Linked DNA regions of Homo sapiens: region 2 is reported to be linked to region 1. The links are microRNA targets in miRTarBase. Many come from high-throughput screens and were not tested one by one. Region 1 holds a microRNA gene; the other region holds the end of a gene's coding sequence.
What was found. Region 1 holds the annotated microRNA hsa-miR-3135b (GGCUGGAGCGAGUGCAGUGGUG, at 3,203-3,224, shown strand). A microRNA usually pairs through its seed, bases 2 to 8, with sites in the 3' UTR of a target mRNA and lowers its output. Matches are read on the target gene's strand: a 7mer-m8 pairs with bases 2 to 8, a 7mer-A1 pairs with bases 2 to 7 and ends in A, and an 8mer does both.

Region 1 (5,173 bases):
AGATTTCCTTCTTTTATACGGCTGAATAGTATTCCATTGTGTATATGCACCACATTTTTTTTATCCATTCATCTGCTGATGGATAGTTAGGTTGATTCCATCTCTTGGCCATTGTGAATAGTGCTGCAATAAACACGGGAGTGCAGATATCTCTTTGATACAGATTTCATTTTCTTTGCATATGTACCCAGAAGTGGAACTGCTGGATCATGTGGTAGTTTTATTTTTAATTTTTAAATAGATGCTGAATTTTATCTGTTTGTTTTCTTCCACATGAATGTATATGTACTCCCAGGAACTAGAACAGTGTTTCTGCCGTCAGTGCTGTTCCACTGTACCTAAACTCCTCCCTTTGAGACTGAACGATTTATTCTGTCATTGCTGGGAATGTTGCTGGCTGACTGCCCTCAGCTTTCAGTCACGCCCCGGAATTGCCTTAGGTGATGAAAGCTGCCTCATCGGATTTTGATCCACTTCCCAGGAGGAACTCGCCTATAATGATTGGTCAGTATAGGAGTATACAACCTGCTCTAATTTGGGCCGACTCTGAGGGGCTCTTGCAGCTTCTGAATAGCTTAGGCCGAAGAATAACAGTCCATTTTTTTTGTAACTGAAATAATAGTCCAATTTCTAAAACCTTGCTCTAATTCATGAGTCATTTTACATACTTTTTCCAGTTGTGATTGTAATTTAAATATATTGATCTTTGTGACTTCTGTAAGTATGGGCAATGCCTCTTCCCCTCCTTCTTGGAAGATGAAGTTATTGGCATTTTCACCCTCCCTTTCCCCTCTCCTTTACACTTCCAGTTGCCATAATGAAGTATCTACATCTTTTTTTTCCCCCCAATATTGTCAAAGCTGAAAATATTGACATTCTGCTGTAGCAATAAGATTCCTTGGGCTTTGCTCACAGATTAATTCTAAATTTGAAAAAAAAAAGTTTATCACTTTCTAAATATCACTTATGTAGTCAGGTATTCTTTGCTTGCCAAGAAACTGCTGTAGTAGGATCCGTTTTCAGTGAGATCCTGGGTTAGACCCAGTTTCCTGGATTCCTTACCTTCCTATATCCTGATTAACAATCTCAATTGGTCATATCCTTAGTCAATTTCTAGTAAAACTCTGCGTGGTAGGTAAATTTTATGTTCTTTCACATTCACAGGTATTTTTATTCTTTCTCCATGCCTGATTGTGACTTTGAAAAGATCTACATTTATTAATAAAAAATAATTTTCCTTTAGAACTTCAAGGACTTTCTCATTATCTTAATAATAGAAGTATTTTTTTTGTTGTCAGTTTGTTTCATTTTGGTTTCCGCCACTGGAATATTTTATGACTTTTCTATAACACCTGAAGTTCTGAAATTTTGAAAATGAGATATTTAGAAGTGAGTCTGTTAATTTTGCTAAATACCTGACAAGACTATTCCATGGAAGAATTAAATCCTTTATATCTGGAACATTTTCCCTTATTATTTGTTCTGATCATTTTCTCCCTTCATCTTCCCTGTTGGTCTCTCTAGCTTTGTCACTTGATGTTTGACTTCCTTGGTCTGTTCTCCATCTTATTTTTTCTACCATATATTACATTTTTTTTTTGCCTTTTAAATTACTGTGAGATTTTCTTGATTTAATTTTCCAATCTTTCTATTAAATTTTCCAATTGTTTTTAGCATTCTATTATTACTTTTACAGATCAAGAATTCTAATTAGAATGACTTTAAACTTGTTTGCTGTTACATGAACTTTCTCTATTAAATCTGTGATAATTTTCATGTTATTTTATTCTCATCTTCTCTTTCATATTGTAAGAGTTTCTCAAACATTTGCTCTGGCCTCTTCAACCTTGTCCTTTACCTACTGTATACCACCTTATTTCATCTCAAGATACATTTCTTCAAGCCACTTCTAAACTGCCCCAAACCATACCTGGTCCCTGTGCAACACTCTCTCATTTTACCTCATTCTTTTTCTTTATAAATGTTTCAGACCTTGTAACTATGTTTGTGGAATTATGTAATATATGTATTTTCCTCCCACTGGAGTGTAAGTTCTATGAAGATAATGAATGTAATTGTTTTCACATTATTTTAATAACATTCAACAAACTATGAGTACTTATTGTAGCACTGGTACTCAATGACCATTTTTGCATTTTTGATGAATTAGTGAATATATAAACAAGTCTGGGGGCTTAGTCCAGCCAATAATAAAGCAAGCATTACTTTGCTTTCCTTTGTTATTATTAGTTCCTGCATACACATTCTTTATAGTTGCATTCCTGAGAGGTTCTTACAGTCTTGGGCAGGCCTTGGACAGGGTTTCCTAAATGTGATAAAAATGAGAAAAACTGAAAAACTAACATAACTTCAAACAGAATGCTTGTCTGCCTATGTTTATGGGACTTTCCTGAATACATTTAAAAAAAAAACCTTTGTATTACAGAAAATTTCAACTGTGTGCAATAGTACAGAGAAGAATTCCATGTATCAACAGCCTTGCTTTAACAATAATCAATTCATGAGCAATTTTGTAAACCCACCCAGTTATCATACAGGCACATACTGGATTATTTTGAAGATATTTTTAGGTATCATATTTCATTTATACATTTTTATTATGAAAATCTAAAATATAATGGCTTTTTAGAAACATAACAGCAATGCCACTAACACATTTAAAACGAGATAAATAATTCCTTAATACACTCAGTGTCAATTTTTCTGATTGCCTCATATAAATTTTTTAACAGATGTTTTGTTTGAATATGAATCTAGACAAAGCTCAGCGTTTGGTTACTATATTTCTTCAGTCTTTTTCAAGTGTATAGCTTTTCTTTTCTCTATTTTTAACTTTTTTTGCAAATTGTTTGCTGGAGAAATCTTTTTATTTAATCTAGTAGAACTTCTCATATTCTGAATTTTGTTGCTTACATCCTTGTGGTGTCATTCATCATGGGATTTTGTCTTGGACTCCAGAAAATAACAATAACACAAATTTGTTAACTTCTATAAACTGCTTACTATGGGCCAGACTGTGTGTGAAGTGCTTTATTTGTAATGTTTAATTCTTCATATCTCTAGTTTGTATGTGGTAAGTACAAACCTGAAATATTTTACGTGATTTTTACGTTTTGTAATTTTTATTTATTTATTCATTTATTTATTTATTTTTAGAGACGGGGTCTCGCTGTGTTGCCCAGGCTGGAGCGAGTGCAGTGGTGCAGTCAGTCCTAGCTCACTGCAGCCTCGAACTCCTGGGCTCAAGCAGCAATCCTCCTGCCTCAGCCTCCCTACTAGCTGGGACTACAGACTGGTCTCCATCTCCTGGGCTTTAAGGGACCCTCACCTTGTGCTGAGATTACAGGCATGAACCATTGTGACTGGAAATTTTGTAAAATTTAAACAATGTGATATTACCTATTAATGAAGTCATACTTTATGTATGTAATCTGAAATAATTCAGATAACAATTTTTAAGAATCATTTAATTTAAAATCATGCAGCCTGATTTATAACTGTTTATAATAATAATATAATAATATAATAATGATGATTTCACTTTGAACTTTTAGCTGATAAAAAGATATATTTGCTCTATTTTATAAAACTAATTTTAGCTATGCTATTTTAACATTATATAAATACTTTTTGAATACATTCTTTCAGTAAAATCCAACTACCATTATATTTGCTTTCCTCAGTATTTCTTGGGGAAGGATTCTAAATAGGGGAGCATTTGTGTATTTCTGTATGACTCTGGTTATAATGCCATTCAATGTAAGCCTTACACACACACACACACACACACACACACACACACACACACAAATGCACACACCTCCAGAATGCTGGGTTCTTGGCTCATGAATCATTGAAATTTATATAAAATTTATTTTAAATCCTATTGCAGAAAAGTTCTTAGCACATTCATGCATTTTCATGTGACCATTTTTATACTACAGTTTTAATTTTATATATTTGGGATCATTATTGTTGACCTTTTCTTTTCTTTTTTTTTAATAGAGTTTATTTTAGAGAAGTTTTAGGTTCCCAGAAAAATTGTAGAGTACAGATAGATGTATCCCATATGCTCTCTGTTCCCACACATGCATAGCCTCCCCCACTAGTAACATCCTTCATGACAGAGGTACATTTGCTACAACTTATGAACTTACACTGACACATCATTATCACCCAAAGTCCATAGTTTATATTAAGGTTCATTCTTGGTGTTGTACATTCTATGGATTTGGGCAAGCGCATAATGATATTTATTCACCATTGTGGTATCAAATAGAGTAGTTTCATTGCCCTAAAAATCCTCTGTGTTCTGTGATGGACGTTTTCATGATCACCACTGGTTCAGATTCCCTGCACTTACTAATTCCCAGTCTGCATTTATAATTATTTTCTCCCGGAGTCTCCCCACCTCCTCCCCAAAGTAAATATGGATAAACTGCTGTTGCATATAATTCACCTTGACTTAAAATTTATGGGACATAAGGAGGGAATATACCCCTTAGAGAGTTAAAAACCGAAGTCAAATATTACAACTTCTTGTCCTAAGAGTTCTCTTAGCAACCCAATCTCAGCCTCTCAAGAAAGAAAAAAATCCTCCAGTTAACATATGAAAAGAAACTCACTTTTACGTCTACGCTTGAATCTCCTAAATCACTAAAGGGCTAAGGAAAACAAATGTACTTTTCATATAATATGATCCATTCTTTTTAATAAATCCATTATAAACATAACTGCAGTGTTTTCTTATATATTTATATACTACGTGTAAGGCACTGTCTATATACCAAGATTATTCAAATTCTGTCAATAACTCTGCAAGGAAAATATTATCACTCCCACATTGTGGATGAGAAAAATAAGGTTCAGAAATGTCAATCAGATACTTTACCCAGTAAAGTTTAAAATACTAGCTTCAAAATACTGAGTCAAGTATTTGGATTTAGGTTTCTTTGTACAAAACTATGCTGTATCAATTATTATGTTAATGTTTTGTCTCTTTTTTTTCTCCTATTACATTTTAAACTCACTGATGCAGATAGCATGGACAGAAATATCCTGGCAGATTTCATAGCTGTTTAGAGCTCTCAGGTCCCTGTGGACCCATTTCCTCTGAGAGATTTTCTATTAGGAGACCACGAATCCAGTGTAG
Region 2 (5,000 bases), not on the chromosome of region 1:
TTCTGAGCAGCGCCACCGCCGCACTGCACAGCTGCTGCCTCAGCACATGTCATCCAGTTCTGGTGGTCTCTCTCCGTTCTGCCTTCCGGCAGGCCCTGGCTACTCCCTCCGTGCCTCCTAACTGCAGTTCTGCAGTGACTGCCAGTGCCGCTGGCTAGGGGGTGGGTCAGGTATCCTGGGGTCAGGTGTCTACCTTAGGCTGCACATTTGCTTGGGATTGTCTTGGTAGGAGCTGTGAGGGGCAGTTTTGCTGAGAGGGCGCTCTGTGAGAGAGAAGCCACACTGCAGAGTGTCTTGAGAAAGGTGAAATAAGCAGCAGGTGGTCCCCGTGTAGCTTGTCCGGGTGCCAGAAGTGCAGTGGCCCAGGAGGCTGCTGTGGGAGGCCGTGTGGGCCTGTGCTTAGGTGGTTGTCGCATGTTCCACAGCAAGACAGATGACAACTTGTCCTGGTGTCTTCAGACACTCAGAACGCAGGAGTCATGAGAGTGGCTTTCGTTGAGACCTGCGTGGCCAGCACTCTAGAGGTGGGGCCGACCCCATGCAGTTCTCAGGTTCTTTGTTTCTGGGACACAGCTCTTGAAAGCCCCCGCCAGTGTTTTAAATAAATGGGAGACCTTGCCAGGCTGCTTACGTATAAGACTCCCTTTTACATGGAGGGTGTTCCCTTTTCTTTCAGAGCCCAATGACGAAAGTGGAGCTAACGTGGATGCGTCCAAAATGTGGCGCGATGACCGGGAGCAGTTCTATAAGATTGCCAAGCAGATCGTCCAGAAGTCTCTGGGACTGTGAGACCTGGCCTCGCACAGGCGCGCACACACCGCCAAGCAGCTCAGCATTCTCCCCCGGCACACTTAGTGACAGTGATGCTCTGTGCTGGTACCAAACAAGGCAGACTTGCAAGAACCATGGCATCTTTTTTTTTTTTCAAACCTTTCCTACTTCAAACAGGCTTCTCTTCTGAAATGATGACTTAATGTCGAATATTGACAGCTTACTGCAGTTTTACAGTATTCCTCACAAAGGGCTTCAGGTAGATTATCAGAGCTGTCAGCACTACCTCTCCCCGCTGAAACCAGCAGTTCATGGCTTCCTGTGGATTCCCTCCCTCCCTGGAGTGTTGAGGGGGTTGTACCTGCCAGACTTCCAGGGGACGATGGAATACCCAGAACGCTCCTTCTGAAGAAATGGGGCCCTGTAGCTGCAGCACAGGGGAAGGGCCCGGCACCCTTTCTGGGTCCTTCCTGGTTCCCTGTGGGCCCCATGAGGAGTCCATTACTTCCTTTCTTCCTTCATATTTTACAGGCAGATGCTTTTCTTATAATCTAATTACATCTTTTCATTTGTTATATATTACAAACCATCACACTTAGAAATACTTCCAGGAAATGCTTTTTTGAAGTGTGAATTAATAAGAAATGGGGTAAATAGAAAAGAAATTTATTGCTGATTGGCCAGGTGCGGTGGTTCGTGCCTGTAATCCCAGCTCTTTGGGAGGCCAAGGCAGGTAGATCACAAGGTCAGGAAATTGAGACCATCCTGGCTAATACAGTGAAACCCCATGTCTGCTAAAATTACAAAAAATTAGCTGGGCGTGGTGGTGCACGCCTGTAGTCTCAGCTACTCAGGAGGCTGAGGCAGGAGAATCGCTTGAACCCGGGAGGCAGAGGTAGCAGTGAGCTGAAGTCCCGCCACTGCACTCCAGCCTGGGCAACAGAGCGAGACTCAGTCTCAAAAAGAAAAAAGAAATTTATTGCTGATCACAAGGACAGACAGTTTTTTCCCGACCATACTCATCAAAGATTTACGTTTGTATATTAGTAACTAGTGCATTACTAGAGCAGGTGCAGGTGAGGTCTTTAAAGTTTCAATGAAAGTTTCTTCTGGATCTACAGAAAAAATTTTTTTTTTTCAATCTAAAAACTGGAAATTCTAGGGTTTTTGTACATTTTGGATGCACTGGGAATTTATTAGCACAAAATCATTCTTTGCAACTCAAAATTCAGAAGGGACTCTACCATATCTTAGCTCAGAGCACAGAGGAGTGCCTTATCCCCACACTTGACTGGGCTGTGGAGGTGGGCATGTGGGCCCCTGGGCCCAGGCTGGGGACAGAGCCCTTGTTTTGTGACTTAGGATTTTGATGTGGTTCCCATGTTCTCTAACAGGGCCAGCTGAGCAGCACAGGCCAGGAGGCCACAGTGTAAGCAATAACAGATCTGCCACATGCAGAAGCAAATATCAGGCCTGTCGCACACGGGCGGCATTTAAATAGGAATTTCTATTTTTGAAATAAGGGATGGTCTATGAGGCATACAGTAGATTTGATGTGATCCTTTTCTCCCTCCCTTCCATAATGGATCGTGGTCTGTGTGACTGAACCCACACAGAGTGTCATGGGTGACAGTTTCTGGTTGAAGTAGCTCCACGCCTGGCTTCTGTGGACAGCAGATTCTTTTCCTTCTCACAAGGGGCTCATTTAAAATTTGGAGGCTGGGTGCTGTGGCTCACGCCTGCAATCCCAGCACTTTGGGAGACTGAGGCGGGCGGATCATGAGGTCAGGAGATCGCGACCATCCTGGCTAACAGTGAAACCCTGTCTCCACTAAAAATACAAAAAATTAGCCGGGCGTGGTGGCGGGCGCCTGTAGTCCCAGCTACTCTGAAGACTGAGGCAGGAGAATGGCGTGAACCCAGGAGGCGGAGCTTGCAGTGAGCTGAGATCACGCCACTGCACTCCAGCCTGGGCAACAGAGTGAGACTCTGTCTCAAAAAAAAAAAAAAAAAAAATGGAACGCAGGGCAAGAACTCGTATTTGGAAGGAGATGGGGGAAAGGAGCGGTATTATACCTATGTTGTATTTGCAGGCAAATGAGATGGAGCCCTCTCTGTAAAGAAGAGTCATTTGTGCAAGTAGACGGGGTCTGTGGGTGCAGGCCCTGGAGGGGCACACAATTGCCTGGAGGCTTCTGTGAGATCGGGAGAGGGAGGAGAGGCAGTCTCTTGACAAAATAAAGTATTTTTATTCATTTGTATTTATTAAATGAAAAAACAATCCCATGGTGTCCCTGTTGTGTGGTGGAACCTAATGACTGTTGAAATAAAGTTCTGTGTTTTCCCTGCCCTGCAGTGTGTGTCCCTTTGTCGTATTGTCAGAGGAGCCTGTGGCCACTGCCCCCAGGGAGCACACCAGATCATCCCAGCTGGGATTCCTCACGGTGGGGGCTTTTCTGCAGACTTGGGTTAGCTCTGGCATGTTTTCTTCTGTTTCTGATCTCCCTTCTGTCATTCTGTGGTCTTCCTCTGGAATTCTCAGGTTAGTTGGGGTCTGTGAGACGGATGTGTTCACTAACCTATAAATGACATTTTGCAGCTTTTTCAGCAGATGCCATTGTGTGAGTGGCACATTTGACCACTAGAAGCCAGCAGGCTGTTCCGACTGCGCTTCCCTCCTGCAGTTGCTTAGAAGCACAGCTCCCTGTCATCACTCCTCTGTGGTCCTCTGTGGTCACGGTTGGTTGCGATGAGACCTGCCTCTGCGTCTTGTTACTTAGCATGTCAATAAAGAGGCAGATTCCTGTGTCAGTGATTTGCTGTTTCTGTTTTGGTAGTTGGCGGTCAGCTTTCCTTTGTAATCCTGTGAGGCAGGGTCCCCAGGCTTCCCCAGGTGCTGGCGCCTCGTTCCCTGGGCTGGTTCCCAGGCTGCTCCTGGTGGGGTGCACTGGGCGAGTGCCTCAGCACAGGCCCCCAGGCATGTCTGTTCTGCCCTTTGCCCAGTGTTCTCACTAAGCATTCTTTTTAATGGGTAAGAACTCTAATGTGATACTGAGTTGGGGTCCCCAAGACCACCCAGGGCGGCGATTCTCCAGGAGGACAGAGGCCATGCAGGTCACGGTAGTCACGGCTGTGATTTCCCACAGGGAGGACACTGAGCAAAATCGGCCAAGGGAAAGGTTCCTGGGGCCGAGTCCAGGGGCACCATGCTCAGCTTTGGAGGCCTCTCCTGGGGTGGGGGTCACGCAGGATGCGCCTCACTCCCCTGCAAGCAGCTGGGACTCTGCGTGTGCGATGTTGGGGATGCCCTGCCTGGTGATGTACCCGGGGGCTGGTCACGTGAGCAGCTTCTGCCTGGGCTGCGCTACAATTCCAGACTCTCAGCAGGGATGTGAGTGTTCTGCCTAAACCACCTTGTACAAATAGCACAGGCCCAGTGAGGCGGGGTTCAGGGAGCCCCTCGGAAATCCCAGTTCCCAGACGCCAGCCAAGGGCCAGCCCGGCCAGCGGGCCTCAGGACGGCCGTCCCCACTGTATGGACCCTTTCTGCGCAGATAACCTTGGGGGTTGACAGTGATTTTTACCATTTCATTTGCTCTGTGTTTCTGGGTTTTGTCTGCTGGCACTGGTTTGCCACAGTTGTTTGCCTGTCTGGCTGAGTGCCGTCCTTGCTTTTCCCATGCAACTGTCTGCTTCCTGGGATGGGGAGGGCTGCTGGGGTGGCCAGGGAAGCTCTAGGGTCTCATCTTCTGGGTGTTGGGGCTTTTCACCCTTCCTGGGGGTTAGCGGCCCCAGTTCACTGCTTGGGCCACAGCAAGGGTGGCGTCCACAGCTCTGACTCTCACTTCTGGGATTGCTGCACCTGCTGGGGCTTCTCCAGTCCAGTCTCTGTGTAGATGAGGTTGCTAATTTTTCAGAGGAGTGCTGTTCTGTACCAGTTTCTTCATAGGATATGGAACTGCTCCAGCTGCACAGAAAGGCACCCCAGGGCAGCCCCAGCTTCCCTCCCCTGGGCGTGCCTTGCACCGTGGCCCCCTGAGCTGACAAGGTTTCTGCAGGCTGGAATTTGTGCTGGAGGCGAGGGCCCTGGGGATGCTACCTGGACACAAGGAGGGGACAGGAAACAGGTACAAAAATTCGGGGCTGCCAAGGGGCAGTGAACACACTAAGGACAGGTGGATTCTGGAAACCCTGCCCTGGAGGGGACCGCGGGGCCGCTTGGGGTGGGG

Region 2: the mRNA of UBE2G2 is a reported target of hsa-miR-3135b. Seed matches in the 3' UTR shown: 7mer-m8 at 1,697-1,703 and 7mer-m8 at 2,734-2,740.

Annotation. Positions count from the first base shown.
Region 1 is chr6:32,748,003-32,753,175 of GRCh38, reverse strand. MIR3135B (microRNA 3135b) reads left to right here and starts at 3,197; the gene lies at 3,197-3,264.
Region 2 is chr21:44,767,166-44,772,165 of GRCh38, reverse strand. UBE2G2 (ubiquitin conjugating enzyme E2 G2) reads left to right here. Exons shown (of 6, transcript NM_003343.6): 6 at 677-3,586. The coding sequence ends at 789. Among named protein-coding and RNA genes, the nearest start is that of UBE2G2, 32 kb to the left of the region's middle. RefSeq lists enhancers at 2,641-3,141, 4,983-5,000 and a silencer at 3,438-3,732.